Linked DNA regions of Homo sapiens: region 2 is linked to region 1. Evidence: fine-mapped expression QTL. Tissue or cell type: spleen. Region 1 holds a variant in brackets; the other region holds the start of a gene. All regions are shown on one strand. Distances are between the middles of the regions.

Region 1 (2,920 bases):
CTGTGCAATACAACTTTAACAGTCTTTAACTGAACACCTAGTAATTGGCAGTTGCTTCAAATATCTTATCCTTTAACTCTGCAAGTTGCAAAGAGTGTGAGAATTTTGTGTGGAAGCCACATTTGCTTAATCCCCAAACCCACCCACCGCTATCACCACTATGCTGTCCTTGCCAATTAGCCAAGTATCTGTCTTTCCTCTCCTTTGCTTATTCCCCAGATCGTCAACTCCTTGAAGTCAGGAAATGTGTAGCTTTCTTCACTTTTATAACTCCAACACCTGGCGTAGTTTCTGGACTACAGTTACCATGTAATAAATGTTGGAAGAATAAAGGTTGGAAGGAGTTTGGTTTGACTGATAAAAACCAAGAAAAATATTTTTCATGAAGTTATCAGATGTCAAATTCTATTTAACACCGGTTTAAATAGAATTTGCAGACATGATCTGGAACTTTCTTTGTGGACTTGGCTCTCTGACACAAAACAAAACAAAAAATTTAAATGCAACTTTGGAAATCTCTAAACTCTTCTGAGGTCTGTGGCCAGGGGCACCAATGCAAGCCAGTTACGCTGTGGATTGCTGCAGTTCTCTAAAAGGAGGGGTGAATTTGGGCTAATTCTCACCAACTCCCTACCCTTGTGACCTTTGTTCTTCTCTACTTTCTACCCCACTGTGGCATGCTCTTTTTCGTAGGAGCTGATTTTATCCCAATGTTCTTTTTCAAAACTTCCTTTTATCTGGTGGTTGATATTGTAGCAATTGGCAAATCACATCTGTCGCTTCACAGCAAGTCTGATGCTCTGCCAGGTCACCTTGGACCACTATGTTTTTTTTTGAGATAGAGTTTCACTCTTGTCACCCAGGCTGGAATGCAATGGCACCATCTCGGCTCACTGCAACCTCTTTCTCCCATGTTCAAGCGAATTCTCCTGCCTCAGCCTCCTGAGTAGCTGGGATTACAGGCATCTGCCACCACGCCCAGCTAATTTTTTTGTACTTTTAGTAGAGACAGGGTTTCACCATGTTGGCCAGGCTGGTCTCAAACTCCTGACCTCAGGTGATCTGCCTTCCTCGGTTTTCCAGAGTGTTGGGATTACAGGGGTGAGCCACCACGCCTGGCCTGGACCACTATTTATTGCCACATCCAGTTCCACAAAGTTTATGCCCAAAGAGGTCACATGTACATTTTGATAGCTAGTTTTTTCTTATGCATGGTTGTGTCATAAAACCTTTCAGCTGAATGGGCTGCTCTGGTATTCTGGGTTTGGGATTTCTTTTAACAGTTTACTGCAGCAGCCATTCAATGTTACCTCCTACTCTGTAACCCTCCTCCTCATTTGAAATTCTCCTCTCTCTCACTGTTGACTTTGTAAACTCTACAGAAATAGGCAAACTTTGGTTTCAGAGGAGGGCTGGCCCTGGTGGGTAAAACTGGCACAAAGCTGAGTTTGATGAAACTGAAAGAAATATAGCACCAGTAAAAAGGCTTCAGCACACAGCAACCTGTACTTGCTTGACTCTCACAGTCCCACGGGAGACATACAGAGTGGGTGGGAAAGATCTGAGTTTGTCAGTTTGCTGGGGGTGGGGTTGA[A/C]AAAAAATTTGGGGTACTTTCCGTGGCTCATAAAACACAAGGTTTCACAGGCAGGAAATTGCCAAGAAGTTTGCTTTATCTTCTTTCCTAATTGCAAACTAGAAGAGGTAGCTTTACAACATCTCAAAATCCCCCAAGTGATTAGAGCACTGTATAAGCAATTGTAAGTCTTCCAAACTGAGCCAGAGAATAATGGCTAATGTTTATTGAGCACTTAACGGGTGCAGGCACTGTGGTAAGTGCATCACCTAATCTGGCTTATTGAAACCTCACGCCTACTCTGAATGATACTTGCATGGCCATCCTGGCTTTACAGGTGAGGAAACTAAGGTACAGAAAGAGTAAGCGACTCACTCCCTCACATGTCATACTACTGTCAACTGATGGGCAGGAAATAAGACTAGGAAACTTTCTTCAGATCCTGTAACCTCATCACTGAGGTGAACACAGTTGGCTCTTATCGTTGGAGGACACACTGACAACATATTAATAACACTGATTTCAGCTGACAGTTCTCTGAAGCTTCCAAGGCCTCAGAGTTACTGTCGCTGAGTAGTACTAAAACAAGTATCGCTTATTTATTCTACAAATGCTTGTTGAACACTTACTATCTGCTCTTCACTGGCAACTCACCATGCCAATGCAGTTATTGGTAACTAATTTTTATTGAGTTAAATTTTTCACATGCTTTATTTCATTTCATCCTTGCACATATTTAAGGTAGGTGCTGTTATTGTCAGCTAAAGAATTGAGTTGTATGGAGGTTAAGTATTTGTCGAGCACTGTTATCTACGCTGCTGCCATAAGTGGTGAAGCCAGGATTTGAACCCAGTTTGATATGACCCCAAAATTATTGTTTTAAAGACAAAGTAAAACTGTGGGTTATCCATATGGCATGAAATTGGGGAAATGGAAATAGGGGAAGGTACATGGAAGAAATGTCTGAACTACTGTACACTATTTTAAAAATTTCCTCAATACATTCTTACAAATAGGCTAGAGAATCTCCTATTCAACATCCTCATTTGCCATTTTTGCAGCTCCTGATTTATAGACCAAACATTCTGTTACTGTAGCGTGAAGTGTACAAACCTTCTGCTTCTGCAGCTCACCAACCACAGAGCCCAGGACTCTCTGCAGCTGGCTATTTTTCTCTTCTTTCAATCTTCAGGGACTAAACTTAGGGCTTAATGAGATGACATGAATGCACTCAATTCTGCAGGTGATCCATGTCAGAGCTAATGCACATTCATGTAAATGAAGATGGTCCTGGGAATCCAGAGAAGCCAGATGATTAAATTAAATGTTCCACATGTTTCCTTAAGA
Region 2 (2,920 bases), 32 kb before region 1:
GTTTTCTAAATATTCAGTCAGAAGCAGATATTTTTCTTATCATTACATGTTTAAATTATGGTGGAGAATTTTCAGCAAATATTAAAATAAGGAACTCCTTGGGAGGCCGAGGCGGGCGGATCATGAGGTCAGGAGTTTGAGACCAGCCTGGCCAATATGGTGAAACCCCGTCTCTACTAAAAATACAAAAATTAGCCAGGCGTAGTGGTGGGTGCCTGTAGTCCCAGCTACTTGAGAGGCTGAGGCGGGAGAACTGCTTGAACCCAATAGGCGGAGGCTGCAGTGAGCCGAGATCGCGCCACTGCACTCCAGCCTGGGCGACAGAGCGAGACTCCATCTCAAAAAGAAAAAAAAAAGGAACTCCTGAGTTATCCCCAGTCCTCCTTGGGTCACTCTGTCCAGCTTCTGATTCCTCTGCTTATTTTAGCTGCAGGCTTTATGAGATCTCCCTAGTATTTGGTACCTCATTCCTGGACTAAGTGGTCAAACGTGTGTAATGGGGCAAAAGGCCTTAGGATGTTGAATAATCGCTGAGCAGGTGGTAAACCTGTGACACTGATGTGATGGATGTAGGAGTGGTCTCCTTGCAGCCCTGGAGCCTTTCATCAGAGTAGGATTTCACCCATCTGAGCTGGCAACAAGCCCTGTTATTCCCAGGACATCTAGAATTCATCAATCGTGCCTGGATTGTTTATTCACTTCACTCATGCTCCTGAATTCTTTGTAGCAGAGTCATTTCCTGTTTAATTCTCTCCAAAGTTTCCCCCTTTGGCCCAGGACTGAAAATTATCTGTTCTACAGTGCATAAAATATTTTTCACAAAGGTAAGCCGTTAGTTATGTATTAGTCTGTTCTGGAAAAAAAAAGTCAAAATAGTTGAGACCTACAGTTAGTCCATGTGATCTGGAAGTGACCAATAGTCATCACAGGGGGTGCACTTACCTAAATCGAATCCGTGTGTATCATTTTCTGCGTTGGTAAGTAGATCCACGTTTTCCTTTGGGAGGCTCACTTTAATATCCTTCTGCTTCTTTAAGATTGGGAAACCACCCAGGCCTCCCAGCTCTTGGCAAGCAACACTCTGACTTCATGTTGTTACTCAGCATTTTGTTCCTTATTGAAATGCCTGGCTCTGCACAACTGGTTTGTAAAGTCTGAAGATCCCCTGGCCATGCCCAGAAACAGCAGCCTCAGGAAGACAGAACTGAAAAGAACACACAGTGAGAACGAGAAGGGCTTTACAGCTCCGGTCAGCCTGACTCAAACCTGTGTTAATAGCCCAGACTCTTGTTGCTCCATCCAGACCTTCCTCTCTCTTCTAGTCACAATCCTACACACCCTTCTAGTAGGAACTCAAAAGCCACCTCACTCAGCCTAAAGTAATCTATCCCTCTTCTGTGTTTCTTATAATACTTTTATTTACTTTGTCTTACAAATTTTCCTTGTATCATACTTACTTATGTATGTATGTCTTCCTACGAGGTTGTAAGTGTTCAGGAAAATTAGAATGATCCAGTTTAGCTTGTACACTTCTCCTTGAGCACAATGCCTTGTACTTATTAAATAAAAATGCTTGAATTGCATGGAATTGAATCAAAATCTAAGAAAATAATCTGCTTTAGAATAGATCTGAGAATGCTGAGTAATGCACAACTCCTGCCTTCTTTGGGGGGACCTGAAACCTTAGGGGGACTTCAATTACTTCTGGATTTGGTATAGCTTCAGCAAAGGCAAGATTTCCCAGGGTTGCTATGGCCTACAGGAATATCAGCCTCCATTGGTCTTAGTGTCTGGCTTTAAATGGTAATGGAATCACACTGATTTTTTATGTTCGTATAGTAACATCATAAAGATACTGAAAATACTGGCAGTATGAAAGGAGAAAAGCAAATTCATTTCTTTTTTGAAAGATAAATCTCATTCATAAGGGATTAAACTTTTATTGTAGATAAGGTGAAATTTGGTAAGTTAAAATGAGAAGAATTTCAAAATGCTTTGTTGGGTGAAAAAAACCTTCTAAAGTAGTATGTTTATTATGATTCTTTTTTTGGTAAAAACAAATTTAAAAAGATAACTTCTATATAAAGTATATGTATACACGCCTGGGGAAAGCATTTGGAAAATTATACAGGCATTAATTTCTCCTACAGTTAAAGTGTCCCTAACAAAAATTGGACATAGCACAATTAGCTGCTTATTGAACATAATTTAATGAATCACTGTTAGTAATAACCAGAACTGACTGGGAACTGGGAAATGATAAAAAGCTGCTGCTTCCCCTGGCTGTAATGGACTGTACTGCAGGCAGACCTGCATGGCAACAGTGATGAGGCATTAGACGGTGCTGAATACGTGGCGGAAAGTGTAAGGAAGTTTGTGTTTCCTTTTGTAGGTTTTGATCTACCTTTTTAAAATTAAAGCTAGCAATAACCAAATACATTTATGGTTATGAAAACAAATTTATTGTTAAAATTACTATTTTTAAAATTCTGTTCTACTGTGAGTTTTAACATTTCTGTTCCCATTAAAACATTTTTTTTTAAAAAAGTTAGTTTTAAATTGCAATTTGGCTTAATTTTAATAGGAGATACACTTTTAAAGGACAAAATCTAAAAGGCACATGCTAGTATTTCTAAATGAGAAATTTTTGTTCCATCCCTATTCCCCAGCCATCCTTCTCCAATTTCAACCAGTGTTACCTGTTTCTTTACATTCTTTTGATAAGTTGAGATTTCTTAGAAATGCACCTATTTTGCAACAGTAGAATAGGCTATATACTAAAATACTAACTGTAGTTATTTTCAAACAACAGGATAATAGGAAATATTTATCTCTTTATAGTTTTCTGGATTATTTTTTTCCCCAGTAAGTAAAAGAATTAAAGATAATTTCTAAAACCATTTTGTTGGACTCTGTGTGA

Which allele goes with the higher level. Positions count from the first base shown, and alleles are read on the strand shown. Sizes are in standard deviations (SD) of each study's normalised expression.
In carriers of allele C in region 1, the expression in spleen of the gene that starts at base 1,212 in region 2 tends to be lower than with A alone (moderate effect, 0.56 SD a copy in GTEx).

What was found. PIP is the estimated chance that this variant, and not a neighbour inherited with it, causes the effect.
Region 2: it holds the start of LINC01094, and the variant in region 1 is fine-mapped to the expression of LINC01094 in spleen (GTEx, PIP 0.90).

The regions. Positions count from the first base shown.
Region 1 is chr4:78,612,755-78,615,674 of GRCh38, reverse strand. It overlaps LOC124900721 (a long non-coding RNA gene), which reads right to left and starts at 882. Exons shown (of 2, transcript XR_007058152.1): 1 at 1-882. The variant A/C (reference allele first, on the strand shown) is at 1,595.
Region 2 is chr4:78,644,286-78,647,205 of GRCh38, reverse strand. LINC01094 (long intergenic non-protein coding RNA 1094) reads right to left here and starts at 1,212. Exons shown (of 3, transcript NR_038308.1): 1 at 943-1,212. RefSeq lists an enhancer at 376-1,575.